Linked DNA regions of Homo sapiens. The protein of the gene in region 3 purifies or fractionates together with the protein of the main gene of each other region. This does not show direct contact. Each region holds a gene or a part of one and is shown on either strand. Other genes may lie near its edges.

Region 1 (7,436 bases), on a different chromosome or scaffold from region 3:
TTCACAGGAGCCGCAACGGGCCTAATACTGACTACAATTCAAAGTCACAGTGAGAGGACGCCGTTTTCCAAGCTGTCTGCTACGAACGTGGAGGGGCATAAACAGCGGCGACGTCTACTGGTGACCAAGCCCCAGGTCCCGGAACACCATCGTTCCGAGTAAGAAAAAATGCTAAATTCTGGTTAGAGGTTAGCAACGATGGAGATGTAATCTCTTTCTCAGCCAAGTTCATGAAGCCCATGAATTACATCCAGAACCTCATCCGTGCACCCACAGAAGGATGGATGCATCTAGAACAACCCTCCTGCATGCTGGTGTTTGGCCACCACAGTCTGCCCTTCCTCCCATCCCAGCACCTGGCGCTGAGTGGTGCCCCCTCCCCTGAGCTCCCTCTTCCCCTGGCGTGGTTCTGCCTATAGCTTCAGTTCAAGTATTTCTCTTGGGGGTGCTACTGGCGTTTGTGGAAGGGCACCTCCATCTTGCAGGATTACTGGGCTCCCTGGCCCCACCCACTAAACACCAGAGCACCCCCACTCCTCAATCACTGGGATGTCACAAGTGCCCAGGGCAACTGCTCCCGCTTGGGAGCCACCCTATCCCAGGGGACCTTCCCAGGTATCTGTCTGACCTGCAGCCACCCCTCACCCCAAATTGCCCACAGGATGAGGCCACGCACATAGAACAGGGAGGCACCTGTTCTAACACCTACCATCCTGGGTGTGAGGCCACAGGAGGGAGACTGAAGATGCTGAGCAGTGTTCTGTGTACAGCCCCCCGCCAGGCTCGGGGAGGGGGCATCGCGTTCAGGAACAGTGGGGCTGGATTACGTGAGAGACTTGTCCTTTTAAAATACCTCCTTGGGTCCAGTGTGTCCCAAGCTCCATGACAACTGGAGATGCATGTAAACGCCTGAGCCAACCCTGGTGGCAGGTGGCATCAGCTTTGTCCCCAGGGCCTGGTAGATGGTCACAGGTGGGTGGGATGCTCTCCCTGCAGTCTCCAGAGCCAAGGATGGGCCTCCTGGCCCCGGTTCTTGAGGAGACACTTGGACGTCACACATGGGTTACCACAGGGATGGGATCAGACAGCCACAGGGAGCCCCAGTCACCAAGGATGCGCCAGACACGGGTGGGCTGCGGGGTCCACAGTGGGCACTGAGGCTGCACCAGATGCAGGGACAGGCTGAGACGATCACCCATAGGCCACAGCTCTGTGACGCACTGGACAGCTGTCGTCGGTGTTTGGGGAAATCGTCTGAAGGTGCGCACAGGCCACAGACTTCCCTACAGGTCCCACTGCTGATGGCGCACCCAGGAAGCACCCCTGCCGGGGAGGCTAGGGATCCGGTCGCTGCTGCATGGGCCTAAGGCTTGGCTGTTCCCAGGAGGGAGACGTGCTGTTCTGGGCCTCAGAGCATCGGGGTCACTGCAGCCAGATCCATCACCCCAGGATGGACCAGCGGGTGAGGACGGGGCTCAGGATGGACAGTGCCGCAGGGTCCTGGGCGGCTGGATTTGGGAGTCCCCGGAAGCCCCAGCCAAGTTTCTCAGTAGAACCTGAACTTCTGTGGGGCGAGAGCAGAAGCCTAGCAGCGTTGTACTTCCTGGCCCGCCCAGCTCACCCTTGTCCCTCAGGAGGAGCCAGGACAGCAGGCGGGCATGTGGTGCCCACTGTGGGGCTGGCTCTGACCTCAGGAGACCCACCGGGCGTGGCGGCTGGGCTGGGCTGAGGCTGGCCGGGCCCTCCTGCGGTGTGTGTCCTCACATGGCCCCGACACGGAGCTGCAAAGAAGCCGGGCCGTGTTCACAGCCTCCCCTCCTGTGCGCTCCCGGTGCCCCTCAGGCCTCTGGGTGCCTGCACCTGCGGGGTAGTCTGTGGCCTTGGCCCAGCTCCCCATCCTCTGACCCAGCCTCACCCCTGCTAGCCAGGCCCAGAGCAGGAGTGAGTCACTCGGCAAGCAAGTGTGGGGCTTGGCCCCAGGCGGCGAGGCCTCTCAGCTCTGAGCCCTGGGAACCCCTCTCTGGGACTCAGCTTTCCCATCTGCAAACTAAGTGGTATTCAGCCCACCCGGTAGACAGCCCCTGGTGCTGCCGACTCTGGGAACTCCTGGGGCACCTCAAAGGTGGGAGAGGACCAGGGGAGGGAGGGCCTGGGGAAAGAGGGACCCTTCTCTCCCTGTCCACCGGCTGCGCCCCATCAAAGACCTTGAGAGCCCACCAGGAGGCCTAGTTCACAGATGCCGCTGGGCCTCACCTCCCACTGCCCCGTGCTGGGCTCAGGGTTTCTGCTTCCGAGTCGCCTGGCCTCAGGGATGATTTGCAGTGGCTCTGTGGCTGGCCCTCCTCCCCACCACAGCCCTGGGAGGTCTCCTCCTCCTGAAGGAGCAGGACAGGTGGAGCCCCTGGGTGGCTGCCCTGTCACCCTGCCAAGCCTGCAGGACCCAAGGGGCACTCAGCACAAGAGAGCAGCGGGCCTCCTCGGCCAGCCACCGCCTCAGGAGACAGCAGTGGTGCAGCCTCCTGGCCCCCAGGCCTCCCTCATCTCTACATCTCCAAACCCTCGCCCTGCAGTCCCACTGCCTCCCCGCCCAAAGTCCACCTGAAGGGCTCTGCCCCCTGACAAGTGGGAGACTGGGGCCTGTCCAAGGCACACTCACACCACTGAACCACGACTCTCCCAGCCTGGGCTCCCGCAACGCAACCTGGAGAAGGTTTTCAGGCCAGCCTGGCCACTGCCCCCCACCCCAGTTCTGTGACGGCACAGGCGGCGGCATCCTCAGCCACTGCTGTACCACTAGACCTGGAACATCACCTGAGTGGCCCGGCCCTGCCACCCGGACCTGAGGGAAAAGCGGAGGCCCACGGCAGGAGGGGCTGGCCAAGGACCCAGTAGCTGTGCAGGGCCTGACGCTGAGGCCTCCCAGGCTTGTGGGGACCAGGCTGTGCCCAGAGAGCGCCTCAGGTGGACGGGGGTGAGTGGCAGGCTGGGGCGTGGTCACTCCCTCACACTGTCACCAGGGTCTCGGGCACATCTGTGCTGAGCTCTAAGCCCATTACAGAAACACGGCCCAGTGCTCAGGAGGCCACAATCACAAAACACCCAGAGCCTCGGGGTCTTTGCCACCTGATGGGAAGATGTAGGTGTGCCGGGCTGGGCTAGCTCCCCACTACAGGCTAAACTGTACCCCCAAAACCCACATGGCTGAGGCCTAACCCCGATTCCTCAGGATGTGACTTTGGGTGTGGAGTCTGTGTGACACCTCTCGTTAAGAAGAGATGGTACCGGTGGGCCCTGACCCAATTAGAGTTGTGTCCTTGTGAAGAGGGGGAATTCGGAGACAGAAGCGCACACGGGGAGAGCGGCCTGTGGAGGCCAAGGTGGGATTTACCAGCCAAGGAACACCTGGAAGCTGGCAGTGTGGAGCAGACTTCCTCACGCCTCAGAAGGGGCCAGCCTGGTGGACGCACACTTGATCTCAGGCTTCCAGGCTCTAGAACCACGGACGACCCATGTCTGCAGCTGCAGCTGCTCAGCCTGTGGCACTGTTCCGACAGCCCTGGAAACACTTGTGCTCCCAACCCCGGCACCCAGCCCCACCCGGTACCGGGAGGGACTCGGGGCCTTCCCCACCCTGTGTGGAGCTCAGGCCTGCCCAGGCGGGGGCCCCGGCAACAGGGAGGGTACGTGTTGGCCGATGCCCGGGAAGTCAAGCTGTGGGGAAAGGCCGGAGGAGGCGGGTGCTGTGGGTGGGCACAGGGAGGACACCGTGGAGGGAGGGGACAGGTGTGCCAGAAAGGTGGGTCAGCAGGAGCTGGCGGGAGATGGAGCTGAGGCCACAGGCAGGAGAGGGGATGGTGTGAGGCTGGCCTGGCCCTCTCAGGGGCTCCTAAACCCACCCGGATTCCAGACTGCTACCGAGCCTGGGGCAGTGGGGTATGCCCCTCACACCTGTACTTCCCCGCCACCCACGGCGGGCCAAGGGCAGCCAAGGAGGCTGCAGCTCTGGGCCCTGCTCCTCAGCATAGCCCTCACCCAACACCTGGCTGCTGCGTGCTCCCGCCTGGGTGTGGGGCCTGGAGGTGGAGGGAGAACCGCCCGCTTCCCTGGCCCAAGCCTCAACACCCTACACTGCACCCCCCACCCCGTCAGGAGACTTCAAGCGGCTCAGGGCACCTGCCCAGGCCTGTTCCCAGACAAAGAAAAGCCACCACAGGCACGGCAGCGAGGAGCCCAGGCTCCGGGCAGGCGGCTCCTGTCTGGAGCCCCCACGTAAAGTGGGCAAGATCCCGGGCCCCACAGGGCTGTGCTGGCGACTGGCAAGATCCAGGCCGGCTCAGGGCTCTGGGCACGTCGACACTGGACAGGGCCAGGGCTGGGCAGAGGCCCCGCATGTAGGAGTGCCCACCCCAGCCTCCACCACGGGTCCAGTCTTGATCTGAAATAACTGAGCCAGGCCCTGTGAGGACGGTCTGGCTTAAGAAAAGGCGTCCAGCCTCTCACTGGCCCGGGCACGGCAGATGTGGGGCCCCAGGCCAGACCTGACCAGTGTGGCTTCGGGTGAGCCCCTCCCCTGGCTCGTCTCCTGTCTAGTGCCAGCCCATGGCTGACACCTGTGCCATGCACATGGATGCCATAGAACAGACATGGGCATGCTCAGACACCCACTAAGCTCTCCTCCGAGGTCTGATGTGCAGCCCTGCGGTTCGGCCACCAGGTAGGTATGCCCCCCGTCCTGCTGTAGGGAGGCGTCCTCGGTACCTGGGAAGGCGCGTTAACCACAGGCTCACACTGTCCCTAGAGATTGCTGGTGTGAAGGTACAAGCCCCAACAGACTGGACTGCCTTATCTCCCTGGCTTGGCACCTGTGGGCACCTGAATAGGGTACCTGTCCACTAATCCTGGGGCACTTGGCCCAGTGTGGGTGGCTGGTCTGCCCTGTTGGGGACATGCAGGGCTTCGTGGCACACGCTGGGAACAGCCCTCCTAGCAGTCCTGCCCCCCACAGGCAGTGGAGCCAGGCCGGAGGGTGAGGCCCAGCTGTGTGGAAGTACGACTCTCTGGGCGGCACGGCCAGGAGGAGCTGGGCAAGACCGGAGGCAGGGAGGCCAGGAGGAGCTGGGCAGGACCGGAGGCAGGGAGGCCAGGAGGAGCTGGGCAGGACCGGAGGCAGGGAGGCCAGGAGGAGCTGGGCAGGACCGGAGGCAGGGAGGCCAGGAGGAGCTGGGCAGGACCGGAGGCAGGGAGGCCAGGAGGAGCTGGGCAGGACCGGAGGCAGGGAGGCCAGGAGGAGCTGGGCAGGACCGGAGGCAGGGAGGCCAGGAGGAGCTGGGCAGGACCGGAGGCAGGGAGGCCAGGAGGAGTCCCGGTTAAACGTTCTAAATGAGCCTAAGAGATGGAGCCCAGGCCCAGGACAGGAGAGCGGGCTGGGAAAAGCACGAGCCTTCCAAGAAGTGCAGAGCCTGGGACAAGCAGCCTGGCCTGGCTTTACTGGGCAGTGGTCAATGCTGTAGCCAGATCTGGCCCTAAGAGGAGCGCTTCACCAGGCTTCGGTTTACTCATTTGTAAAACAGGTCTACAAAGACCCCTTCCGTCTGATGTGTTAACCAGACAGTCATGGGAAACGCTCCACAAGCCGGGTTTCCCCGTGTTCTAAGAGCACCCGGGTTCATGAGTGCTCTTAGGGTACCGGATGCCATTAACTGAGAGGGGTGTGTGTGGGCCTTTGCAGAGGGTGTCCGGGGAGAGGGGGGACACAGCCCGAGGCTGCCCACGAGGTGCACAGCCCCAGCACCTTCTCCCTCCTGGCCACCTTCACAGGAGGTCACGATTATTCCCTTTCTCTCCTGTGAAAAGGCCCGGGGACACCGGGGATGGGATGGGGGTGGGGGCATCTGTGCCTGAGGAGTGCTGTGGCCTGCCTGGCATGGGAGGCTTGGCGGTCCAGCAGGGACCCAGGCCATTGCATCACGCAGGTGGCCCTGTCGGATCAGGGCTCCCCTGGGCTCCGCTCGGTCCTCACGCTGGGGATGATGAGCTCCTCTCATGGAGGGAAGAGCAGCGACACAGCAAAGGCTGAGGACCACCTGGGAACCACGCTGAGCCACCTGGACAGGACAGGGCACAGGGAACTGTCTGGTCTGGTGAGGGGCTGTGTGCCAGGCAGCCTCCGAGAGGCCCGCTGAGCAGGACTGAGAAGCAGATGCTGGTGGGCTCTCCCGGGCCCAGCCGGAAACACCCTTTCAGGGATGTGGGAAGGAGAGGTCCAGGCCCTCTGAGGATGGTTCCCCAGAGTCTGTGTGCCAACCACCCAGGCGGTCAAAAGTGGCACAGAGAAGAAAAGATTCCTTCGGAGGGGCCCAACGAGTGGGTGCTTGGTACAGGCTCCAGGGCACGCTGGTGCCCGCTCCAGCTGGTAGGCGGGCTGCCACTCTGGGCACAGGAGCGGCTGGGCAGTTTCTGTGCCACCGACAGTCCCATGCCCCACTCTGACTTCTGCCCCCAAAACTAGACCTTAGGGCCCCTCCTCTGCCTCAGGCTGGGAGACCCTGAGAACAGGGGTGTCTGCTCCAAGGAGACCCTCCTCTACCCTCCATGTCCCGCTCCCCACCCAGCACAGCCAGGTATAAAGCCAGGAAGGCCTGGGGGTGTCCTCCGAGAAGCTATCCTGGGCCGGGAGCCAGCCGGGTTCTGTGGCTACAACAGGGAAACAGTTAGAGGTGGTCCCAGCGACCAGGGAGCTCAGGTGCCAAGGTGGGGCGCTGAGACCCCAGCAAAGGAGCAAACAGACACACATCACATCACATCAGACATCAGGAGGCCAGACAGGTGCTCTGGGAACACCTATGCCCAGACACAACCTTGCAAGCAAAAGCAGGAGGCCTGCTGGCACGCGGGCAGTGATTCAGCATGAGGGCTCCTGGCAGCGCAGGGGCACCCGGGGTGCCACTCGGCTCCGCCCTTGCCTTCTGTGCCGTGCCCTGGCATAAAGGGAGGGTGGCCGGGTGCCCTGCTGCAGTGCCACCGTCCAGCTGGTGGCACCCAGGCCTGCTTCCTTGCCCATAAAATGGGATGACCACTGCTGTCACTGCAGCCTGGCCTGGCTGTCCAGAGGACAAAGGAAGTCTCAAAAGGGAGCCCAATATGTCCCGACACTGCCCTCTTTCATGAGCTAAGTCTCCTGTCACCCACTGCCTTTTCTGGTCCCTGGGGCAGAGGCTGGGAAGGCCCGCCACACACCCAGGGCCAACTGCTCTCCTTCCCACGAGGAAGTATCAGATCTCTACCCCACCTGCTCCGGGCCAGCGAGGTGCCCAACCCCAGGGGGTTCGCATTCCCTCTGAGGAGGTCCCCCTGGAGAAGTCTGGATGCAGGAGAGAGGGGACTGAGAATGGTGCCTACTAGGCCACAGAGGGTCCAGGGCTCCTGGGAGGATCTGC
Region 2 (8,006 bases), about 100 Mb from region 3:
GTAGCTTCCAAAATTCTTTCAGTATCATATGCACTCTGTTGTCTTAGCAGGCATGGGCAGATCCCATTTACAAATGTTTAAGAGCAACGCAGGATCCCCACACAAAACAGCAGCCTCCACCTAGGCTCCAATATCTGACCCACGGGAGCTCCACTCTTCAGCCTCCAGGAAGACACCCTACAAGACATGCTACACACCTCTGCAAACACAGTGTTCTGAGCTCAGTTTCTGGTCCTGAATATCAGAGTTTAAATTTCCATTCCACCGCTTACTAGTTGTGTGACCTTGGATGAGATATTTAACCTCTCTAAGCCACAATTTCTCCTTCAGTAAAACAGTGATAATAATAGTCCCCATCTCCCAGGGCTATTGGGTTGATTAAATAAATCACTGTGCATCCAGTTCTTAGAACAGTGTAGCAAGCACTTAGTGTTAGTTATTATGATTTAATTTCACTTAATTTGAAAACTGTCATTTCTTGTAAGTCTTGGCAAATGCAGAGGTTTCTTTATTAATGTTCAATGTCAAAAGATGAGCTATCTTGGGGTGAAGAGAAAGGTTGCTTGTGTTGAACCCAAACTAGACTCAGACTTGAAGCTGCTACTCAGTTTTTTCTCACCAGAGGTAGGTGCGGATGGGGAATTTCCAGGTTGATTTTGAATCCAAGACTTCTCCAACAATGCTATACTTATCAAAAGTAGATTTAGGAGTATGAGGAGATAGGGAGGGTCATCCAAATAAGACAGAACCGCTCCAGTATGCCTGCACCGTGGCCACGATACCTTCAAAGTACTGTCTATGTACCAATTTCTGTTGAGGAAACAAGGTACAAAGAAACTCCCATATGGATACTAGCAGGATTTGCTAGTGTCTGGGGAAGATTATAAATTAGCTAGTTGCTGCTCACATCAGAGCCAAGCAGGGCACATTCAGTTTTTTAATCTGGACCAATTTTCCGGATCAAAAACTAGTCTTTCCAAGGGATGTAAATGAGCCCAGGAGGGAAATTTCCCCTGAAGTTATGAAGTAGCTGTCATTTTAATCTGAGAAGCTTTCCAACCTGAAAGCTAGTGTCTGGATAAAATTATAAAGTAATAAAAATAAAACTCTTCTAGGTTGAACCTAGTCTAAACACTTCTATCTCAAATTTGATGTAATTAATATGCCAAAGTATTTAAGAGGTGGTGTTTCCACTATCAAAACCCTATCTATGCTTCAAATAAAACCAAAGAGGCCAGCATGGCATATTCCTGGCATGAATATCAGAATGAGACCCTGAATGAACCAGGTAGAAAATCTTTTTAGGAGAAGAACTCCAAAAAATAAGAAGGAAAATATGATGACCCACATGAGCAGTTTTATACAACAGGTTTTTATAAAATGCTTTTTAAAAATTCCCCTTAAATGGATTAAAATATATCCTTTAAAAAGCATTGCATACACTGTTCATGCTTTAAAACTATAGATATAACTATGCTTTGTTTAAAAATTGTGACAATTAATAGATGATTTCATGTGAATAAATCTGCAAAATGCAATTGATCGTGATGTGGTTATCTTAAGGAGGAAAGTTAGAAAGAAGCCCTTCACTGAAATCCTTGAAGGTATATGTATGTGTGCGTGCAGGAAGAGAAACAATTTAATGTGATATTACCTTGGACTGAAGCTATTATCTCCAAAATGAATTGAAGAGCTCATAAATGGAGTGGCTCATAATTTAAATATGGTGTAGATTATGATAATGACCTTAGATTTCAAGGCAGGTAACAAGTGCTGGTAATAAGAGACACAGTGCAAAGACTGAGGACGCTTCCAGAGCCGAAATGCAACAAGTCATATTTCCAGATAGAGAGTTTCAATGCGAAAATATTTAAGCATTCACATGGGATCCCGCTAAGACGATTTTCTCTGCCCTCTGATAAATTTTCCTAGCTTTGCCTCTTTCTTACAGAAACGTTTGTGAAGACAAACTGCACTTTCTGTGAGGTTTTGCAGACTGCATTCAAATAAAAGTAATATTGTTTTCCATTGTTCATAAGATATAATTAATCCCATAAGACAACCTCCCTTACAAAGTAAGTTAAGACAAAACAGATTTTTCAGAATTCTAAATATGGTCCCAGCAAAAAGTAATAAAAATCGTTATTTGGGAAACAATGTTTAGAACTTCATTGTTCAGAATGTTCTACTTTGAATAATCTCACAGCATAGGCCAAATCAAAGTAGACCAAAATAAACGAAGACTTTTTACCTATATGCAGCTAGAGGAAACACACGTTATTATGGTTTCAAGTTCTCCCCCAATTCCCAGTCCCTTATAACAGGTTACAACGTACATTTCTTTGTTTAAATGCCAAAGCAAAGACAGGAGTTCAAAACACGGTAAAATTAACCCACTGGGTGCTTCCTTCTGAACAAATGGCCCCAGAGTGGAAGAGGATGCTAAGAGCAGAGTCCACATCCCTGCACAACGCGTGGGCAGGACCCGAGATGGGCAGAGGGGGCTCCAGGCAACCCTTCAGACACTTAACAGGAAATGGCTGGGCTCTGGACAATATGAATTGAGTAAAATGTTTGGAGACGCAGGAGGGGCTGGTTTGACTCCTCTGCATGGTTGCCATCCTCTGTAATTGAGACAGCACGATCGCTGTCCCAACTGTCAGCTCTCTGCGGTCAAACACGGGGACCACCACCTCTATCTACTATGTCTGGAAAATTGATCATTCTTTTAATAAATAAATATCCCTAGCGCCGCCCGGGCTCGGGGGAGGGCGAGGTTTGCGTCTTTTCTCAGCTCCTGGCAGAGCTGAAGCGAGTTAAGCAGACGTTGGTCGGGGAGAGGGAGGCGGTGCGCTGCCCGCTCTGTGTCCTCGCCCCGGAGCCCAGCAGGGGCGCTCGGGGCGTGGTGGCTCTGGGCGGAGGAGCGCATTACCTGGTTTTCGGATGGCCGCTCGGAGCGACACCGCGCCGGGTCCGAGGCTGGAAGCCAGGAGCAGGAGCCGGAGCAAGACGCCTCGGATTAAATCCATTTCGCAGCCGGCGCCTGCAAAGTTTCACCAAGTCCCGGGCGCACACGGAAAGGGCGTCTCCGGGGGCGCGTGGGGGACGCGGCCCCAACGGATCCCCGGGCCGGGGCGAGGAGGTGGGGGGCTGCGAGGGCTGGGCCCGGAAACACGGGTAGTTCCAAGAGGTAGGACTGCAGCCGGGAGGTCGGCGTGCGCGAGTGAAGCCGGCTGCAAGCTGCAGGGCTTTTCGCGGGGGCGGGGGCGACGAAGGAGGCCGACTGGGAGGGAAGGGCTGGCCGCGGGAGGGAGGGAGGCTCGACCGGCCCGGGGATGAAATTACAATCGAGTGGAAGTGAGAGGGACAGGCCCTGAAACCTTCACTCCTCGCCCACCTCGGAAGCAGACAGCCCGCCCCTCACCCTCTCTAGCGACCCCCAGCGCAGCCCTTCCCCGCTGGTGACCTAGATTGGGGACCTGGGAGGGACCGACTTCAAGCACTGGAGACGCAGGGCAGGAGTTAGGCGACTGCGGGTCCAGGACCCTCCGCGGTCCTCACCCTGAAATCTTGGGGCGCCCCCCCTCCACCCCACCTGGGCCCTCCTCCTGCCGCGCCCCTCTAGGCGACTTTTTCTAACACCTCAAAGGTTGCTGTAGTTGGTCCAGCGCACTTGGGGGATGCGAGGGGTAGACGGGGGTCTGTGATTTGCAAGTGGGGTGGGGGTGAGAGGAAGAGAGGCGGGACCGTCCGGGTCTGAGGCGCTAAGAAGATAAATGGGATTTAAGGCTCGCAGATGGAGAGCTGAGGCCAGGCCGCTCAGACTGGGACGCCGGGTGGAGATTAGGGCCTGGAGCGGGGGAGTGGGGGCCCTTCCCGGCAGAGGAAGGCAACTTGAGACCCTCCTGGGGAGGAGATGAAACTCCAAGTTAAGCCTGGCGTCTTAGGGAGGGACGCGAGCTCGAGCCCCCAGGCGGACCGAGAAAAGCCCCTGGGCGGCGCCCAGCTGGGCCTGGGGCAGGGGGCCGGGGCGGGGTCCTGGCCTCTGATCCCGGGATCGGGCTTCCTGGGTTGTCTCCTGAATGGAGAAAGACTCTTTCTCCGCCGCTGAATTTGCTGCCCTAGGACTCAGTAAAATGTACCTTTTGCCAGATTTCGCGGTAGTGCCTGGAGAGGGGAGACCCTGCCTGGGACACAAGTCCCGTTGCATACTGGCGTTCTGACCTCCAAACCAGCGAGAAGAGAAAGCAGATACAATAAATAAACCAAGAGGGAATAAACTTAGAGGCAAACGCGGCCCTCGGCAGTTCCTGGGGAAAGATCAAAGGCCGTAGGAAGTGCCCCGCAGAGGAAATCTGCAGTCACTAGCGACAGGACCGCGCCCGCCCCCTCCCCACCTTGCAACGCTGCCAGGACTCGGTGGGCGTCCTGGCTCTTCACAGTTAGCCTATGTTTGGGAGCGCGGGAGGAAACAATGTTGACTGATATATTCTTCTCCCCTCCCCAGCCCCCCAAACACACACACACAGGATTTCTACTCCTCTTTTAAGAATGAAATATCCCCTGGCTGGAGAGTTTGTAATGAGCTCAATCTTGTTAGTTAGCAAAGCTGAGTGTGTTCCCTTATGTGTTGGCATTTTCAAGTGTGCAATTGTCTGTTCACAAATAAATTCAAAGTCCCCTCCAACTTGAGTATTTGGAAGTTTTAGCTGTGACACCAGAGCTTGTCCTCTTACATAGAACTGGAGCAAAGTTCAGACAGAACTATGCTCTTCACGTCCAAGGTGACCATAAAGCCGGCCACTAAGCTAAGCAAAGTGACTGCCCCCAAGGCTGCTAGTCTCAAAGGTCTCAAAATCATAGACTTTTTAGCATTTTAAAGGTCATCTAGGCCATGCCTCCACTCCACGCAGGAGTCTGCTTTCAGCATTGGTGTCGGGTCGTGCCACCTCCCTTTGAACTCCACCTGTGTGAGAGAGCTCCTCCAGCGCCAGCTGAGAAGTTGTTAGAGGCCTTTCTTTATGCGAAAGTGATTTCTTATCTCGGACTTAATGTGGCACCCAGAACCAAGCGAGTGTTGCAATGCAGATGCCTCCCATGCAGGCTTTCCTACTTAAAAATGATTCTCTGTGATGCTGAAACTGGAAGTAATAATAATCGTTGATATTATGGCTACCATTTATTTAAGGTCTCCTATGTACCAGACCTTCTTTGAAGTGCATTTTAATCCCAATAACAACCATACCAGGAAGATACTGTCATTACTATTCTCGCCTTTTACAGGTGAGGAACCTGAAGCATGGGAAGGTTAAGAAACTTGCCCAAGGTCATGCAGCTCCCATGCAGCGCTTGAATCCAAGGGGTCTGATTCCAGCTTTCAGGCTTTTGAGAGAACAATGTGGAAAGTAAACACAGCAGTGGACTGAGAGGATCGGGAGATGTGGGTGTTTAATCCTAGGCTCTGCGTATAGTGTGCCTTGGTAAAAATGAATGGGCTGGACGAAACAATCAGTAAATTCCAGGTTTTGCTTTCTCTTTAATAGCTGATAAAACAGCATCATCTAATCTAAGCTACCTTTACTCTGCATGTGCCTTTTAACAGACCCTGTGCAAATTGTCCACTGCAAATTTCGCAAGCCTGGGCAGCCTTCTTGCCAATGTCCTCCTCATGTGCCCACACCACCTCGGCATCCCTGGCCCTGGGCCTCCCTTCCATTTTTTTGCAGATGACCATAGGCGATTTGGGAAATAGGCTTGGTTTCTTCAGAGACCCCTCTTGTTTTTTCCTTGGGGAAAAACAACATTAGATTATACTGTTGTATTTTTACCTCTGAGGGCCTGCAAACACTCTGGATCATCAGGCCATTGAGATAAGACCTTATTTCACAAAATCTGCTTCAAATCTAGAGCACATGTTACATTAAACTTATTCCCTTCCTTTGCAGTTCAAATCGCATCCTCCAAGGGAACTGGAAGATTCCCTCTCCTTCCAGTTTGAAAACCAACTATGGCATTTGTAAATCTGACTAAAGACAAATAGAACACTTGCCTTTCACTCTCTTCCTGCTTTCTGAGAGGAGGGGAACTAAAGAGGGGCCAAGAGGCTTTGAATGTTTCATTAAAAAAAAAAAAATCTGTTCAAATTCACTGGAGGTCTAAACTCAATTAATAAGGTCACCAGCAGAAGAGTGACCTGCCTACTTTGCTCATTATCATGGAAGAGGAATCTGACCTTTGCTGCATGGAATAGATTTGGAGGCTGGTAGAAGAAAGTAAAGGCAAACTTATCAATTATAGAATGTTTATTAAGACTCTAAATGAGAGTGACAAAGAGGCAGCAGCCAAGAATCATCTTTTGATTTATTTTTCTAAATTGGTTATATCTACATGTAAAATTTGAAATGCAGATCAGGCAGAGTGTATAGTGAAAAATAAGTTTCCTTTTCTTCCTTCTACCATCACCAGTTTCTTGGATATCCTTCTAGAGATGGTCTATGAATGGACAAGCTAATTATATACACATATATTTAACGCAACCAAGAGCATCTTCTACGTACTTCTTAACCTGATGATCCTTCCAAATCAGCAGATACAGATCTGCCTCCTTCTTACTAACTGCTGAATAATATTCTACATGTGATATGTAATTTATTTGTTCTTTCTTCTGTTGTTTCCAATTATTATAAACAGCAGGCATGAATGACACTGAATATGTAATAAGTTGCACATGTTATAGTAGACTGTAGGGTTCATTTCTAGACTAACCATGCTCGGTCAAACAGTAAATGCCTTTTCAATTTTGATAATTTGGCTACATTTCCTCCCAAGGAGGTTGTACTATTTTACTCCCCAATAAGCAGTATATGTGCCTAACTAATTCCGTGAACTCTCACCAACGTAGTGTCTTATCAAACTAGAAATATAAATATACATATATTTATATGTTACATTTTAATCAAGATGCAACATACAAAAGTATCAAATAGTAAGTGTACCAATTGATGAATTATAGCAAAGTGAGCACACTTGTATAACTTTATTAACTACTGCCCAGATCAAGGAATAGGATATGACCAGCACCCCCACAAAGCCCTCTTCATGCTTCCTCTCTAGAAGTGTGTATTTTTGAAGAAGGATGAGGGATGAGAATTCTAACCTCCCATTTACCTTTAATTAAAACACACAAATAAAAGTAGATCAGTAAAAATAAGTAAACACTCTCCCTACACCAATGTAAAACAAACATTGAGACTGAATCCCATTATGTGTAAGTCTCTGTGCTAAGAACAGAAATAATATATTAGAGAAAATGCAACAATATTTTTTGCACTCAAGAAGACTACAAATTTGTTGGGAGACGAAGACAGTTGCACTGTCAATTGTTCCATAAAGCAGAACAAAGGAAGCCCTAAATAAGAGTGCAAATAATGTGCTATTGGGTTGAGTGACAAAGACCCTGTATTACAAATGATAACATATATAATAAGATACTGTATAATGCATAGCCATCTGCTATGCATTATGTCCTCCTTGCTTATACTTGATTATAATTAAGTATGTAATCAATGGACTGCACTGACAAAGCAAACGTGTAATAAACCCCCAGATCAAGAAATAAAACAATACCAGCACCCCAAAAGCCTTTCATTCTTCCCACTAACTGTAACCTACCCTACAACCAAATAGGTAACCATTTTCCTGATTTCTAGCACCTAGATTATTTTGGCCTGGTTTTGAACTTTATATAGATGGAATCATGCAGTAATGTAATCACTTATTCCTCTTTTACTCAACATTATGTTTGAAAAAATTCATCCAAGTTGTGTGGTTATTCATGTTCATTGCTGTGTAGTATTCCATTATAGAAATGTATCATAATTTGTTTATCCATTTTACTCCTGATAGACATTTGGGTTGTTTCTAGTTTGGAACTACAACCGAAGATGTTGCTGTGATCATTCTTGTATGTGTCTGTGGCAGACATATGTATGTGTATCTGCTGTGTA
Region 3 (8,220 bases):
CTTATCTTTCCGCTGAGTTGGACACGCTAGCCCAGGCCCATTCTCTGTTACCTGCCCACCCAATCAGTCCCCTTCCTTCTCTGTGGTTGTTTGGGCTGGATCCAGTCATATCTCAAGATGGGGACGCCTTGCTGGTACTTGAACATTTGTTGATTAGTGAACCCTTTCTTCAGAAAAAGTACTCTCACCCACATGTATAGATGTTAGATTTACCTAAAGCATGGTATGCCTGTGGCACAAACAACTTCAGATTATTTTTCCAGCAACCTAAATCAAGGGATACTGCATTAGCCATGCACTGCTTATTTAATGAGGTGGAAATGGGTGTGTCCACTCTGCACAATACCTAACCCCTGGGAGCTAGCATACAGGCTGACAGTGTCAGAGGCGTTCGAACCAGAGCAACTCCATCTTGAGTGAGGGCTGGGAAAATGAGGCTGGGACCTGCTGGGCTGCATTCCCAGAAAATTAGGCATTCCTAGACTCCAGATATTTATGGTTAAGGGAATAGATTGATAATGTTTACTACACAGACTCAGACTTGGGAGTCTCCAGGTAGCCCGATATTTTGAGAACAAATGCATTCCTAATTTTGCTTTAAAGATAATATGGATTCTTGCAAAATATAGTAATTAAGAAAATTAGGCCAGGTGCAGTGGCTCACACCTGTAATCCTAGCACTTTGGGAGGCCGGTTGGATCACCTGACATTGGGAGTTAGAGACCAGCCTTAGCAACATGGAGAAACCCCGTCTCTAATAAAAATACAAAATTAGCCGGGCATGGTGCCGCACACCTGTAATCCCAGCTACTTGGGAGGCTGAGGCAGGAGAATTGCTTGAACCCGGGAGGCGGAGGTTGCAGTGAGCCGAGATTGTGCCATTGCATTCCAGCCTGAGCAACAAGAGTGAAACTCTGTCTCAAAAAAAAAAAAAAAAAAAAAAGGAAAAGAAAATTAATCCTTTATCCTTTATCACAAACCCTTGTAGCAGAGCACATCTCCCCATGATCTTTTTAAAATCCTATATATACGAGCATGGTACCTAGGATGGATGTGTTCCTCCTCTTACTTTTGGGAACACCCTACTCTGTCAGTGGAGCAGCTGTGCTTTCACCACTTTACTTTCTTAATAAAAAGAAAGTGCTTTTGCTTTGCACTGCGGACTCGCCCTGACTTCTTTCTTGCTTGAGATCCAAGAACCCTCTCTTGGGGTCTGGATCTCTTTCCTGTAACAGCAGTCCCAAGATCCTAATAGTTTATGTGTAGTTCACAGAATGCATGTCACCTAAGTGAGTGGCTGCACTGTCCCAAGATGAGATGTCCCTTCAATGTAGATACGGCATATGGATGTCCGCCCACCATCTCCACTGAATGTTATCATCATGGCTGGTGCTACTCACCTGTAAAGTCAAACCACTTAACCAGATATGGCTTCCTTGATCCTTTGCAGAACTAGTCAAGTCATATGTAAACAGCAGATTTGAGAGAGAATTTAAAAGAAACTCATTGTGTTTTCTCTTAAAGTTTTGCATACTAAGTTTGCTTTGGATTACATACTTCATTTGCAAACCCATTTATTCACACTAACAAAGGCAGGGGCAACAGAAGAAAGTCTCTCTGAGTCCCTCTGCCAACAGCAAATTGTTGATCTTGCCTTCAGATCAACATCTCAAGAGGGGACTTTCCTCGGAAGCCCTCAAAGACCAACACAAAGAAAACAAAGGAAAAGGGAATTTGCGACTGTGAATCAGAGTCTCCACCAAAATCCTCAGTCATCCACACTGACAAACAGCTCCAGTAAACTGCTGGCCACCCTTCACTAGACATCACTTCCCAAAGCGAGGCCCACTCCTTTCAGCCCTGATGCCACTGCTGCTGGCTCACTGTTACACAGAGCTGGTGGAGGGGCAGCCTGGCTCGCCCTCAGCCGGGATGCTCAAGTCCTCCCACTGGGTCGGGGAGCTAACTCGTAAACAATCGCATCCCTGTAGAGAATGAAAGGAAAAGTGCCAGTCACCAGTGCAGAAAGGAGGGAGGCAAGCGGGGGTGGTGGGGTGGTGGGTGGATGTAACATAGCTAGAGAATAATGGAGTGTTTGAATTCTGCTGAGGCAGAGTGAGCCCTTGGGCCTCCCTTGGGTCTCTGAAAAGTGCGTACTTGATTAAATGCCTGAAATTTCCATCTCAGTATCTGGAGGGCTGCATTTCTGAAGTGCTCCTCTGCAGCAGCCTTGCATACCTTTGGCATGTAATTGTGATGTGGGTGTGGATAGTGTATGTGCCAGAGACTCTGTCCATTCTGACTCCTTCTTTCCTAGTGCCCATCGGAGGGGTACTGAAACGAGGATGTGATATTCCAAGATCAGAAAGGAAGGAAAGAAGTAATCCGAGTGACCATGGGGCCATGGGAATACCACCCTACCAAAACCCTGAGCTGACACACCCAGATAATCCTAAACTTCAGCCTGACTTCTATATCAAAAGGTTAATAAAATCTAAGCTGCCCACCATGTGGACAGCTTTTCCAAGGCAGCTGAATATCCAGGCTTCCCAAGAGAGAGCTAGTGTGACACAGCACGATAATGCTAGCCACACTCACCACAGCCAGACTCACCGCAGCTTTCTGCTTCTGCCGAACCTCAAGGGCTGCATCCAGCACTTTAGTAAATGAGAAATGCCTGCCCCCTCCAGCCCTGATTCAGGGCCAGTGTCAGGCGGGCACTGGAGGAATGGAGATAATGTGGCGGCATGGTGCATTCATATTTTTGCAGTCTCTAAACTAGAAGTACTATTTTTACATGTCTGTGACATCAGCATGCCCTTCCCCCAGAGCAGTCTGCACCATGGTTTAAACCCAGCCAAAGGTGAGCTTCTTGAGATTCACTTGCAGGAGTCCTGGTTCCAGTGCTATCTGCTTGAAACATTTTCTTTCTTCTCCAAGTAGCATTACATTTGCACTTGGACACACACACAAAACACACACACACACACACACACACACACACAACCTCAGCTATAACCTGCTCTGTTTCCCAGATCAGATGCCCTGATTCTTACCTAAAGAGCTTGTAGGCCGAGGGCTGTACCTCTCTCCACACTCGCTCAGTGCTGTCCCAGGGGAAGCAGAATCCACTTGGTGTCTTCTTCTCAGAGTAGCCCGGCTCTCTGAACCTCCAGGCTACTGCAGCTCTGAGTGGGGAGAGGGACGGGCCGTGGCATGCACATCAGGTTGCTGGCCTGCCTCCAGATACCATGCCACAGAGCTGGCTACCCGTCCCTAGGGCTCTGTGGGAAATCGAGGTGGGGGGGGTGTAGGCTGGGGGAGCCAAGAATGTCAGCCTCTAGGTCTATCTCCGGTCCTTGTTTATCAGTAGAGGGGACCTGCCTTTAGACAACCGCCCACTCCCACACCACCCGCAGGGATGCACACAGCTCTAAGCAACCCCTACTCTGGACAGCCAGCAGCAGGCCCAGGAACACAGAGCCATTGGCCAGCCAGGAGGGAGGTAGAGACAGAAGACGGTGGCAGCAGCTACCCTGGGTGTTATTTTAACGTGGTTTGTCTTGGGGCAAATGTGTGAGCCGAATGGACTTCTGGCCCGTCTGAGCAGAATCCTGTTTATTTTGAGGCCTGAGTTGCCAGGGAAACAGCAGGTCGTGGCTCGGAGACTCTCCTCTGGAGTCAGAAGGCTGCTGGATGAAAGGGAGGCCTTTTCTGTTCTGTCATCTGGCATCCCTGCATGGGGTGTAGGTGTCTGTGTGTGGCAACGTGTATGTGTGCGTGTGTGTGTCTGTCTGTGCCATCCCCAGAGCCAAGCCCTACAAATGGCATTTTACGAAGTCAATCGAGGCAAAAGCCATCCAGGTTGGGACTGGCGAGGGGCTGCAGAGGTGGCAGCTCTGTCCTCCCTCTCCACTGTTCAAGCCTGTCCCCGTTGGATGAGGTGAATCCTCAGGTGAGCTCAACTTCAGGGGTGGGAAATTCTTCAATGGGCCATGGACATCCTCTTTAGACTTCTGGCCAGGACAGGGTAAGGAAGGGAGGGAGCTGTCTGGACAAATAACTCTTTGGCTAGAAGGTGGGGAATAAGGTGGACTGAAAGGATATGGATCAAGAGCTGTCTTTGAAGAAACCAAATGAAAACATGATTAATAGTTTCCAATAATTGAAGAGTCGCTCCTGCTTATGCAGGCGTTTGAGCCCAGAAGGCATGAGTGTGTGTGTGTGTGTGTGTGCACGCATGCACTCCCATGTATGTACACAAGCCTGCTCACCTGATGATTCAGGTAGAGAGGTACAGATCGACCTGTCAGAACTAGAAATATGCTCTCCAGTCTCTACCTCCTCTGGGTAGTTGCTTAGGTGTAGAGAGGATGGAGTTGCAGTTTGTTCCCCACACTCCCCACAGAGCATGGGGGTGTGGGGAAGCCATCCATGTGCCTTCTGAAGGGATGAGCCTTGGAGAAGGAGCTCGTGTCCTGTACTAAAGAGCTAGAGGCTCAATCATCACAGAACTCCAATCACGGATAAGCAGCAGCTCCCAAAAGGGACTTGAATATACAGAAAATGTTGATTTCTTGAGACCCTATTAATTGGAACCCTCATGAACTACCACTTCTACACCTGCAAAGGATACTGATAATTTGCTTTAAAACATAATAATCTTCCTGAGTATCTGCAAGTTTCCAAAGGGCCTTCTGAATCCTTAAAGAAAATATTTTGGACAATGGTTTTCCAAGTATTAAAGAATCATTATGCTAGATGTAGTATGCATGTTAACCCTTTTTAACTACGTGAAATGATAGACTTGAAAGTTAGAAAATACCCTAAAAATCCTAAGGACAGAGATGCAGACTCAGAGACTCACTCAGGTGGTACCCTTAGTTAAAGTCCTCATTGTGACTAAAACCAGGTCTCCCTGCTTTAGGTTAACCCCGTGTTAACCTGCCTGCACTGTGTGGTTGGCCATTGTTGGGCAATTCAGCCCAAGGGCTCCAGATTCCCCCCCTCCTAGTGGAAATTAATGAGACTTTCCTACTCATATCTTCCCTGCAAACTCACAGGATTATCATGACAATCAAATGTGTCCAAGTGTGTTCGAGCACCTTGAACGCAGGGAATGCAAATGCAAGTCATTATTTTATTTTATTTCTCCATTATGTCCAGTTGTGAAACCCTGTTTAAACACACACACTCACACACACATACACACACAGCTTTTAGGCAAATATAATCCCTAGCTACTGACATATGCTAATTTATCTACTGCATATTGGGTGTTTGGCAATATTACTGTCCAAATACTGGGAAATAATCCTCAGTTAAGGTATTTACTGTAATATAATTCCCGCCAATGTGGAAATTTTTTAAAATTTCATTATAATATCCTTCAATTTCTACATTTATTTGAACTTCTGTTACTATCTAGATTTACCTTTTAAATAACATATATTGAGATTTTTCCCAGTCTGGAGACATGATCATGTGAATGCTTTTCAGCCCCACTGTTATTTAGAGTAGGAAGGGACTTTGCAATGACCTAGTCGAAAAGTCTGGTCTCAGAATAGCCCTCCAGCTCTGTGCCTGGAAATAGTCAGTGGAAATAATAGCCGTCGAAGCTGCTTATTAAGCATCCACAATATGCTAGATCGTATGCAGAACATGTAACAGAAATCATGTCTTCCTCCAAAGCTCTTACACCACTTTAAAAGCCATTTCTGCCCTGATAAAACCTTGTAGGAGAGGCTGCTAGTACTGCAGAGGGGTCCCTGGAGAAAGGAAGAAAATTACAGGTTTGGAGGACCAAAAAAAATTCTAGTAGGTTTATCCACAGAGACGTGGGCTTGCCCCGGAGTCATCCACATCTAAAATGTTGTGGCTCTTGCCAGAGGTGAGATTTTTCCTTTCGCATCCTAACAGATGGACTCAATGCAGAGCACTTAGGCAGCTGCTATTACAGAAAGTGGCTCTACACCTCTCCTAAGAGCTTTAGAAGGGCAACAAAGGTAGAATGTGGTGGTTCTGTGGTTTTACTTATTTTGTGCTCAGTGTCTCTGAAAATCAGACATATAACTATCACATTTTAACTGTACCAGCATGAAAGAAGCAGAGCATTATTGAATCAACAGGGTTCAAAATGCCCCCAATATATACATTTTTTTTCTCTCCAGGCAGAACATAAGCCCTGGTGTCTTGTCCTTGATTCTTGAGAATGACATTCAATATTTGCCTTAAAAATTCCCCTTCATTCATCCTGTTTACACAAATGATACAGTTATGTGAAACACACACCAGACACATTGCATTTTCTTTCTAATCTCATTTGACCGTGTTCAGGCACAACAAATCTTAATCAGCTGACGGGAGAAATTGGATGCTGCATGCCACTCTCTCCCTCCAGCAACACATTTCCCTCTGTTTATGCCCAATGAGGCAGTTAGATGAAGGGTGTCCTGGTCTCATGGTGAAGCAAGCGCCACGATGACAGAGGGCAATGGGAAATGCAGCAGACATTCATGGGAAATTGTATTCGTTGCTCAAGGAGACCAGCCAGCCACAAACATCACCAGAACTGCAGGACAGAAGCTGAGTCCAATGACCCTCAAGAAGGAAGGTGCCTCACCCTGATCCCACTGAAATCCAATCATATGCGCTTGCCCGCCGCTGGTTAGCCTGATTCTTCAGCAACTTCAGGGGAGGATGCTTGGGAAGGGTCCTACCCATGAGAGCTGGGTTTCCTCTCCTCTAATATTGATTGTCTGTCGCCTATTCTACTGTGTTTTCCTCGATCCTAGTTTTTTTTTTTTTTTTTTTTCTGAGACAAGAGTCTCGCTCTGTCGCCCAGGCTGGAGTGGAGTGGCGCGATCTCGGCTCATGGAAGCTCCGCCTCCCGAGTTCACGCCATTCTCCTGCCTCAGCCTCCGGAGTAGCTGGGACTACAGGCGCCCGCTACCACGCCTGGCCAGTTTTTTGTATTTTGTTCAGTAGAGACAGGGTTTCACCGTGTTAGCCAGAATGGTCTCGATCTCCTGATCTCGTGATCTGCCCACCTCGGCCTCCCAAAGTGCTGGGATTACAGGCGTGAGCCACCGCGCCCGGCCCCTCAATCCTAGTTTTTTAATTTTAAAATATTTTACCTTGGCCGGGCACGGTGGCTCACGCCTGTAATCCCAGCACTTTGGGAGGCTGAGGCGGGCGGATCAAGAGGTCAGGAGATCGAGACCATCCTGGCTAACACGGTGAAACCCCGTCTCTACTAAAAATACAAAAAATTAGCCGGGCGTGGTGGCGGGCGCCTGTAGTCCCAGCTACTCGGGAGGCTGAGGCAGGAGAATGGCGTGAACCCGGTGAACCCGGCGAACCCGGGAGGCGGAGCTTGCAGTGAGCCGAGATCGCGCCACTGCGCTCCAGCCTGGGTGACAGAGTGAGACTCCGTCTGGGGAAAAAATAAAAAATAAAAAAAAATTTTACCTTTACTTAAAACGAACACTCTGTGCACATGATAACACTGCACTAAGAGGTATAAAACGACACTCATTAACCCTCTTTTCTCCAAAGATAACCACTATTCACTTTGAATGTATGGATCCTTTCAGGAAAGAAAACTGTCTTTGTACCCTGAATATGTGTATGCTAAAAACACACATTACTGTGCACAATGTCCTGCGTAATTGTTTGTTTTTCACTTAATAATAGATGTTTGCACATTGGTCTAGTTCATCCAAGCACCAAATTTCTTGCCTGGAGTATTGGGGTATCTTCCTAATTGGCCTCCCTGCTCTACCCTAACCCTCTACAGTTCATTTCAGAAGGAACCTGCTAAAAGGTAAATCAGACCATGTACGTATTTGTTCAGACCTGTCCAGGGCCTTTCCCTTGCACTAGGAACAAAAGCCAAGCTCACTACCACCACCTGCCTCTGCAAGTTCTCCCCCAACATACTCATTGCTCACCGTGCTCCAGTCACCTGCTCCTCATAACGGGCCAGGCTTGGTCCTAGCTCAGGGCCTTTGTACTTCCCATTCCCTCTGCCCAGAATTATGCATTTATTTTCTGCCTCTAGGTTATTTGCCTGGCTGGCTCTTTCCTGTTATTCTTGTCTCAGCTCAGGCCACCTGCAGCCTGACCACCCGTTCTAAATCAGCCCCTTATCACTGTCTTTTTACATCTCCCACTTTCTTTTTCCTCATACTACTTACTACTTTCTCAAAATTATTGTAT
Region 4 (7,436 bases), on a different chromosome or scaffold from region 3:
TTAGATTCCCAGGTTTCTGGCTTGGACAACTGGAAGACGGTGGTACCATATGGAGATACGGAATGCTGGAAGCAGCAATGGGGTATTTGAAGGGGCTGAAAATAGTAGACCTTAAATGTATATTATGTTTCTTTCTTTGACTCTGGGAGATTGACAGAAGGCCCAGGAATGGTTTCCAGGGTGAGACACCCACTTCCAAGTCTCCTGCCATGTTTTTCTGAGAAGAGCGACAGCTCCTGCTGCACTCTTCTTCTAGTCCATCCGCCCTTCCCTCTGCTCTGGACCTCTTAGCCTTTCTCCTCCCACTTCCTCATCAACACGGAGCAGACGATCCATTCAGGAGAAAGTCACAGTGAAAAAAGTTACATGAGCCTTAGGGTAGAATTTAATGATAACAAGACACATATTAATAACTGATATATATCTTTTTATTATGCACAGATAAAAGATTTAAAACTGTGGTTATCAAAACTATACATCTAAGCATCTTCACAAAATAGCTGACACACTGAACAGAGAAAAGAATACAACAGGGGTGTTCAAACTGGCCACAGGGATTTTAAGGGTACTCGTTTTACCCTCATAGATGATGAAAACCAGCAACAAAATCAGGCTCATTCAGGAAAAACCAGAAGAGAGAAGTATTGTATTTGGAAACTGATAATAGTCCTTTTTAGAAAAACATCTGTCAGTTTCATGAACAACCCCCAGATAAAACAAACATGAAAAAAATCACATAGGACTCACCCAACAAAATGTGCTCTGTTAACACAACCAGCAGTACAATCATCATTCAAACCATGAGGTAGTTACAGTACAAAAAGACTGGCACGCGTGTGAGCACCCCACACACACTCACAATCATGCCCACTAAGAACACAAGCAGGAAATGGATTTACAATCTTATTACAAGGCAAAGAAAAAAACCATTTTTTTTGTTTAGAAAATGCTATAGAAACAGTTTAGACAGAAGAAATCTCTGGCTTTTTAAAATACAGAGTAACAGCTGGTAAACACCACATGGTGAAAAGCTATAGCGTATTATACAGACAATCTGCCTTGGAGTTTGGGGCATTTTAACAACAGCTTCAGCATCAAACAAACAACAAAATGGCCTCTGCAAATTAAGGGTGTAGCCTGCAGAAATAACAAAAGACTGCAGATACAAGAGTTCAGCTGAAATACAACAATACTTTTAAAGAAACTTGTAGTACACGTTATAAAAGTAGAGCTTGTACTTTGTATTAAAACTGTAAAGTGTGAAGCAATTAGAAATACTGTAATGAGAAGCTAGGGAGAAAATACCTTATTTTTTTCATGTTCATTTTTTAGAAACATTTCAGAAATACTTAACGACATTCACTCTCCAATATGAGATTAGGTTTTATCGACACAGATTTCTTGATCTGAATAATAATTCTGACAATGAGACCCAAACAAATAAAAGGTGATTTTTTTCCTCTCTCTCTCTTTTAAAAAGATCTTTTGGTTTGCATCTATAAATTTGTAAATTAATTTTAAATTATTTATAAAATCATTGGCAATGTAGCATCTCTCTTAAAAATATATATTTAAATATATTACAGAAGGTTTTAACCCTGTCCTTCTAAGACATCAATCTTTTAATATCTCCTAATAGCTAATTTTCTTTTTAACACGATGGAAAAGATTTTTTAAAAAAGCAAAGGACTGATCGAAAGAATTCACAGTAGCTGAAATTAAACATTTCATATGGAGTAACTTAAATTTATCTAAAACACTTAAATATATCTTTATACACAAATTTTGTAGTAAAATATAGCTATAAGTGACTTAAAGACTCTAGTCTTCTTTGAAGACATCTTTAAACTTTTTTATACATAGAATATGCTGAAACAATACATTCCACCGAAGGTTAGGCAAAGCGCAATATTTTCAAACACAGGTAGCGTAATCTAGGTCCTCCACTCTGATACCCTTCTGTTAAAAAAAAATTAAAGGAAAAAAATTCTCTAAACTCATGTCTTCTTCGTTTGTATATGGAAATCTAGAAATTTTTCAGTAGATCAATGTAGATAGCCTGGAAATCTCAGCCCTAAAGTAATGTTTTAGTTAAAATGTTCCTTATTGAAAAAAAAAAATGTTCCTTATTGAATGTGTATATCTATCAGGTAAGTCATATTATTACTCAACGATTTGGTAAAAATGATTGTCAATTTCCACATACTTGTTTCCCATGTAGACACTGCCCTAAGGTTTTAAGCTTCATCAGGATTACCTACTGAGGTTCCATTCACAGACAACCAGGCATAACTTCCTTATTTTAAGGGCAGTGGGATTTGCTTATGAATATTTTGGGGGTAGAATCTATCTTGTTCTACTTATGGAATTCTAAGTTGTTTGGGGGAAATTCTGGAAAAAGAATAATTTGCAATGAAGCTATCTTCAGCAGTAAAATAATTTAGCATGATAATTCCCCCCTGGCATTCTTTTTTTTTTTTTTTTTTTTTAACAAGGAGGTATCACTGAGCTTATTTTAGCTGCAAAGTGGCATCATATTATTCCATTTAATGAAATTCACCTCAAGCCCTTTTTGACATATTAAATATATGGGATATATTTAAGGCAAGAGAAGTAAGGCAATCCAAATGAGTGCCCTTTTCCAATCTCAGCACTGTCTTGGTGGAATTGGTGACACTATTCAGATAACCAACTGGAGACCGACAGGATTTGCCATGCATTTGCATCTTGCTACAGTTTGGTTTTTATGAAAGGGCCTATTTTTTTTTAAGTTGACATATTTTGAGTGGAAACACTCACCCTACCAAATATACTTAAGTTGCAACTCTAAAAGCATAAGGACATTTTCAAATTTTCTCTTCTTCAACTGAGAAAATGAATGTGCCAGGTGACATATTATATACTTGTACTTGCATACACATAGAAATATATCACTGTGCAAATTCGTCCTTGACTTTATAACTGAATTTCACCTCAAATTATACATTAATTTGCAGAACAAAATATTAGGAATGGGCACAAATCTGTGGTTCCTGATTTTGGTCATTTTCAATTTCTGTAGGCCTGTAAGAAATACAAAATTTGCATTAAGACATTTTGCAGTGGTGTATGCAAGTATGGGAAGAAACAGGAAGCTGATAAGGTCATCAGCATTGGTTTTGGCCCAGGGCACAAGAAAGGAATGTTGCCTTAACACTTGTCAGGGTGCAGTCCCTGAGGGCAGCACCCATCAAGGGACACATCAGACCCCACAGGTTGTGGCAGCAAGGTCAGAAGTGTGCATCCAGACAAAGGTGCAAATTAGACAGGAGGATCGCTTAGAAAGCCTCAAAGCATTTCTTGTTTTACATCTTGGTTCAGATATAAAGAATCTTTGGCCGCATCTCCTCACTGGTTCTACTATCTGGCTATTAACCCTTTACCAACTCCTTGAGTCTGGGTAAAACTCAGGGCCCCAAATTATGGATGTTCTCACCTGGACAAAGCAGCATTTTAAAAACTGGCATGTGTTTCACATTGAAAACCCCCAAGCCTGTGAGGGGCTGGTGGAGAAGACCACCATTTTAGCTTTCTCACATGAATTCTAGTGTGGTACAGAAGCCCAGGGTCATGTTTATACTAGCCCTGGGTGTGGGGTGAATACAACGGGTGATCTTTATACTGAAATTCACTCTGTCTTTACAAGGGAACCAAAATCCAGCCCTCTGAGTCTGGACACGAGGCTCAGCCATTGGTCCTGCCCTTGGCAGTAGCTGAGCTGAGCTGGGCTGGGCTGGGTTGGGCCGGGTTGGGCTGGGTTGGGCTAGGCCGTGCTGCTGCTGGAGCAAGGCGTGCTCTGCGTGCTGCCGATGCTGTGGGCAGCACTGCTGTTTTCCGAGGCTGGCGGGGAGGTGGGGACTTGCTGCCTTCCTGCTGTCTCCCCTGCAGTTAATAAAGAAAAGGCAGAGTCAGAGAAAGACGCATATTATGTATGTGCATTCCTGAAAAGATCATTTATTCCGCATTTGCCATTTTAACTGATATTTTTCTCAACCAGGGCAGAAGCAACTAGACTAGGTCCTAGATGGCTGGAATACCTTCTAAAATAAGGTTTTGCTATTTGTTGTTTTATTTTTAAAGCATCATGAATGGGAAAAAGAAGACAGCTGACTGACAGGCAGCTCTAGTGGCTAAGACCCCTGAGAGTTGATGACAAAGTCCCTGGATTTCAGGGTCCACAACCTTTGATGAAATCACCACCACTTGGTCTGTGTGAGCTGGCAACTGACCAGCACCTGTATTCAGGAAACACTGTCCATCTTCTCTCATAAAGACACTGTAGGATTTGGAGGGTGTGACCTTTCAATTGTAGTTAAGAGAACCCTGGAAGTTTGGGAGCCTTGTTCTGAATGCACTTGTTAAAAACAGGAGTGAAATATAGACTTTGTCCTAGCTACAGTAGAGAGAGCCTTGTGTGCCAAACAGATAAATTACCTGAGAAACCGGGGTGGGGGATAGCTGCTATTGGAAAAACCTTTTGGGGAAGGGGTTTAGCTGTTTGCACATGGGGACTGCAGTTGCCAGCGAATGGCCTCTCTTCCCCACTGAGGTTCCCTGTGGGGTGCAGTGTGAGTATCTCCTAACACTTTAAGCATCCCACTTTTCATTACACACCCCACTGCATTTTAGCTAAAGCCATTCATCGTGCCAAATGTGCAGTGCTTTGGAGAGGAAGGAAACCTCAAGTCACACACATGGTTTGCATTTAACAGTGCAAAAGGCCCTAGAGTTAGTCTTCTCTTCGGCAAAACCGGCCTCAGTGCAACCCTCAAAAAATGGCTCTAGGTAGGGAAAAGCGATCAGGGCTCTCCAATAAAAAACACTGCATTTACTTTGAAAAGTCAGAGCATAAACTTCATAAACTTCTTGTAAGCAGCATCCCCTCCTTCAATGTGGGAAACCCCAGAGGGCCAGGCCTGTTTATGAATGAGCCTCCTCTTTCCTGTCATGCTGAAATACACATCTATCAGCCGGAGATAAGCAACCCTTCCAGCTGCTTCATTAAAACAAAACACTCGAGGAAAGGCCCTGCCCTCCAGTGCAGGAACTTGGCCCCATTACTTCCATTCTCTTTCTGGGGCCCCTCAAAAGCCTCTGTGAAAAAAGCAGTTCTGCAAAATGTAGAACTGGCTCATGTCCCTGGGTCTGGTTACAGCTTTTCCTGTCACCCCTTTCATGAACCACACAGCTATACACACTTTTGCATCAACCTCAAAGTATTTATGTGCTTGTTGTAAGTTTGGCCCTTGTTGTACTTCCTCTAATTATCTTTTCTTCTGGGATTGGCGGGATGGATAGGGGACTGGGGTCAATATTCCTGAGAAGCGGAGAAGCACTGCCTTTTTTTTTTTTTTTTTTTTTTTGTGAGACGGAGTCTCGCTCTGTCCCCTAGGATGGACTGCAGTGGCATGATCTTGGCTCACTGCAACCTCCACCCCCCGGGTTCAAGCAATTCTCCTGTCTCAGCCTCCCGAGTACCTGGGACTACAGGCATGTGCCACCATGCCTGGCTAATTTTTTGTATTTTTAGTAGAGACACGATTTCACTGTGTTAGCCAGGATGGTATCGATCTCCTGACCTCGTGATCGGCCCACCTTGGCCTTCCATAGTGCTGGGATTACAGGCGTGAGCCACCACGCCCGGCTGAAACACTGCTTTTGACTTTTTTGGAAACCTATGTTTTGGACCCTCCCCAGCACTGCCCTCTACTCTTCATGTGTGTGTATAATTAAGGCTGGGGAAATTAGCCTCCATGGCAATAACTTTCTGCCAAAAATTCACTTTCCCCAGAGTAGGAGCTTTATTTCTAGAAGGGAATCAAATCTCTTAACTATTCTGAGGTCAAAACAAAAACAACCTCCAGAGACCCAAACAACTCTAGATATACTTTAAGAATTTGACTCCCTTACAAACCACATGTTGGTCCATACCCAGCTGGATCCTCACATAATCAATCAGAAGGACTAATGTGGCTATGCATGAACCACATTTTAAAAATATTTTTTCCTATTTTAATAAGGATACATCTGAAAAGCAGGAGGCCAACTCCATCTTTTTCTTTTTTGGCTCACCTGGGCTTTGTTTGCTCAGCCCAACAGCAGGTAAAAGAGAAGGCCTTGCTTCATCAAGCAATAGGGAGCAAGTGTGCTCCTCCAGGATCTGCCCTGTGCTTGATTATTCACATTCAGGAAAAGTGCCAGGACTATGCCCTGCCCAGGAAGCCTGAATATCTGCTTTCCGATGTCTATTTGCCAAATATAATTTGTTGCCATGTCAGTTTATTTTCATCCGTGCCCATTAAAGAGACCTTTCAACTTCCCGAGTTTTGGGAACTCTTGTTCTGGTAATGCAAAACACTTCAAAACAAAACCCCAAACAAAACAAAGAAGCCTCCGCACTCAAGACTGCAGGATGCATCTCACCAGCTGGATAAGTCAAGTTAACCTAATATTATATTGACTTTGATCCAATAATGGGCCAAGGTGAGTCTCTGTCTGAGAATCTGCTGGGAAATATTGAAAGTCCCCTCTTCAGACCATCCTTTCCAGTTCTGTGGCTATTTTCACATGTAAGATGCAAGGTTTCTCAATATAACCATGTTTTAAAAATAACTCTTACCTTTTGACAGATTAAGTTTTTTCACTGTCAAATGGAAGTGATGCTACAGAAAAATTCACCATGAGGAAGAAAGTTGAATGTACAGATGCTTCTACTTAATGGGCCAACAGAGACCCCTGGGTTTTCTGAGATGGGTCTTTGGCTGTCTGCTCTCCACTGCAGTGGTCTCTGATTTCGTGGAGCACCAACTTTCTCTAAAACATCCCTTGGGTGACAAGTATAACAAGGCTGCTCCTAAAGGAGATGGGCAGGGAGGACCTCGTGGCTAAGCAGACTAGGCCCAATTAACACATCTAAGAAATTCAAGGAGGGCGCCTTGCTTGTAAATAAATATCAGACTTGGCCAGCAGAGGAAATGTACTCAGTCTTCCTGCTTTCCTCCTAAAATATCAAACCACATTGAGGGAACAGAGATTTGAGAGGAGGGAGAGTGAGTAGGGGAGAGAGGAATTTGGTGCCTGACATACTCTGGAGGAGGAGAGTACACTGAGGATAAGGACACTAAGGATTAATTCCACCCATCTCACAGTTAGCCTATGGCTGGGCCTAGATACTGCCAGAGATGCCTCAAGAAATAGAAAAACAAAGCCAGGTGCAGTCACTTACAGTGCCAGCTTAGGAGGCTGAAGGGGGAGGATCTCCTGAGGCCAGGAGTTAGAGACTGCAGTGAGCTATGATCTCACCTGTGAAGAGCCTCTGCACTCCAACCTGGGCAACAGAGAGAGACCCTGTCTCTACCAGGGGGAAGAAGAAAAAAAGAAGCAAAAACAAACAAACA

What was found.
Region 1: the proteins of FGF1 (region 3) and GPC1 purify together in Homo sapiens (affinity purification with mass spectrometry; 3 studies listed by BioGRID and IntAct, with this or other methods). This does not show direct contact.
Region 2: the proteins of FGF1 (region 3) and EGFLAM purify together in Homo sapiens (affinity purification with mass spectrometry; 3 studies listed by BioGRID and IntAct, with this or other methods). This does not show direct contact.
Region 4: the proteins of FGF1 (region 3) and TGFBR3 purify together in Homo sapiens (affinity purification with mass spectrometry; 3 studies listed by BioGRID and IntAct, with this or other methods). This does not show direct contact.

The regions. Positions count from the first base shown.
Region 1 is NC_000002.12:240,438,459-240,445,894, reverse strand, and holds part of GPC1 (glypican-1 precursor), read right to left. Parts: intron 1-7,436. UniProt on the Homo sapiens protein: Cell surface proteoglycan that bears heparan sulfate. Binds, via the heparan sulfate side chains, alpha-4 (V) collagen and participates in Schwann cell myelination.
Region 2 is NC_000005.10:38,253,778-38,261,783, reverse strand, and holds the start of EGFLAM (pikachurin isoform 1 precursor), read right to left. Parts: upstream 3,226-8,006; 5' UTR 3,030-3,225; coding exon 2,933-3,029; intron 1-2,932. UniProt on the Homo sapiens protein: Involved in both the retinal photoreceptor ribbon synapse formation and physiological functions of visual perception.
Region 3 is NC_000005.10:142,682,901-142,691,120, forward strand, and holds the start of FGF1 (fibroblast growth factor 1 isoform 1 precursor), read right to left. Parts: upstream 3,191-8,220; 5' UTR 3,057-3,190; intron 2,804-3,056; exon of another isoform or gene 2,599-2,803; intron 915-2,598; exon of another isoform or gene 796-914; intron 1-795. UniProt on the Homo sapiens protein: Plays an important role in the regulation of cell survival, cell division, angiogenesis, cell differentiation and cell migration. Functions as a potent mitogen in vitro. Acts as a ligand for FGFR1 and integrins.
Region 4 is NC_000001.11:91,679,937-91,687,372, forward strand, and holds the end of TGFBR3 (transforming growth factor beta receptor type 3 isoform a precursor), read right to left. Parts: intron 3,922-7,436; coding exon 3,803-3,921; 3' UTR 407-3,802; downstream 1-406. UniProt on the Homo sapiens protein: Cell surface receptor that regulates diverse cellular processes including cell proliferation, differentiation, migration, and apoptosis.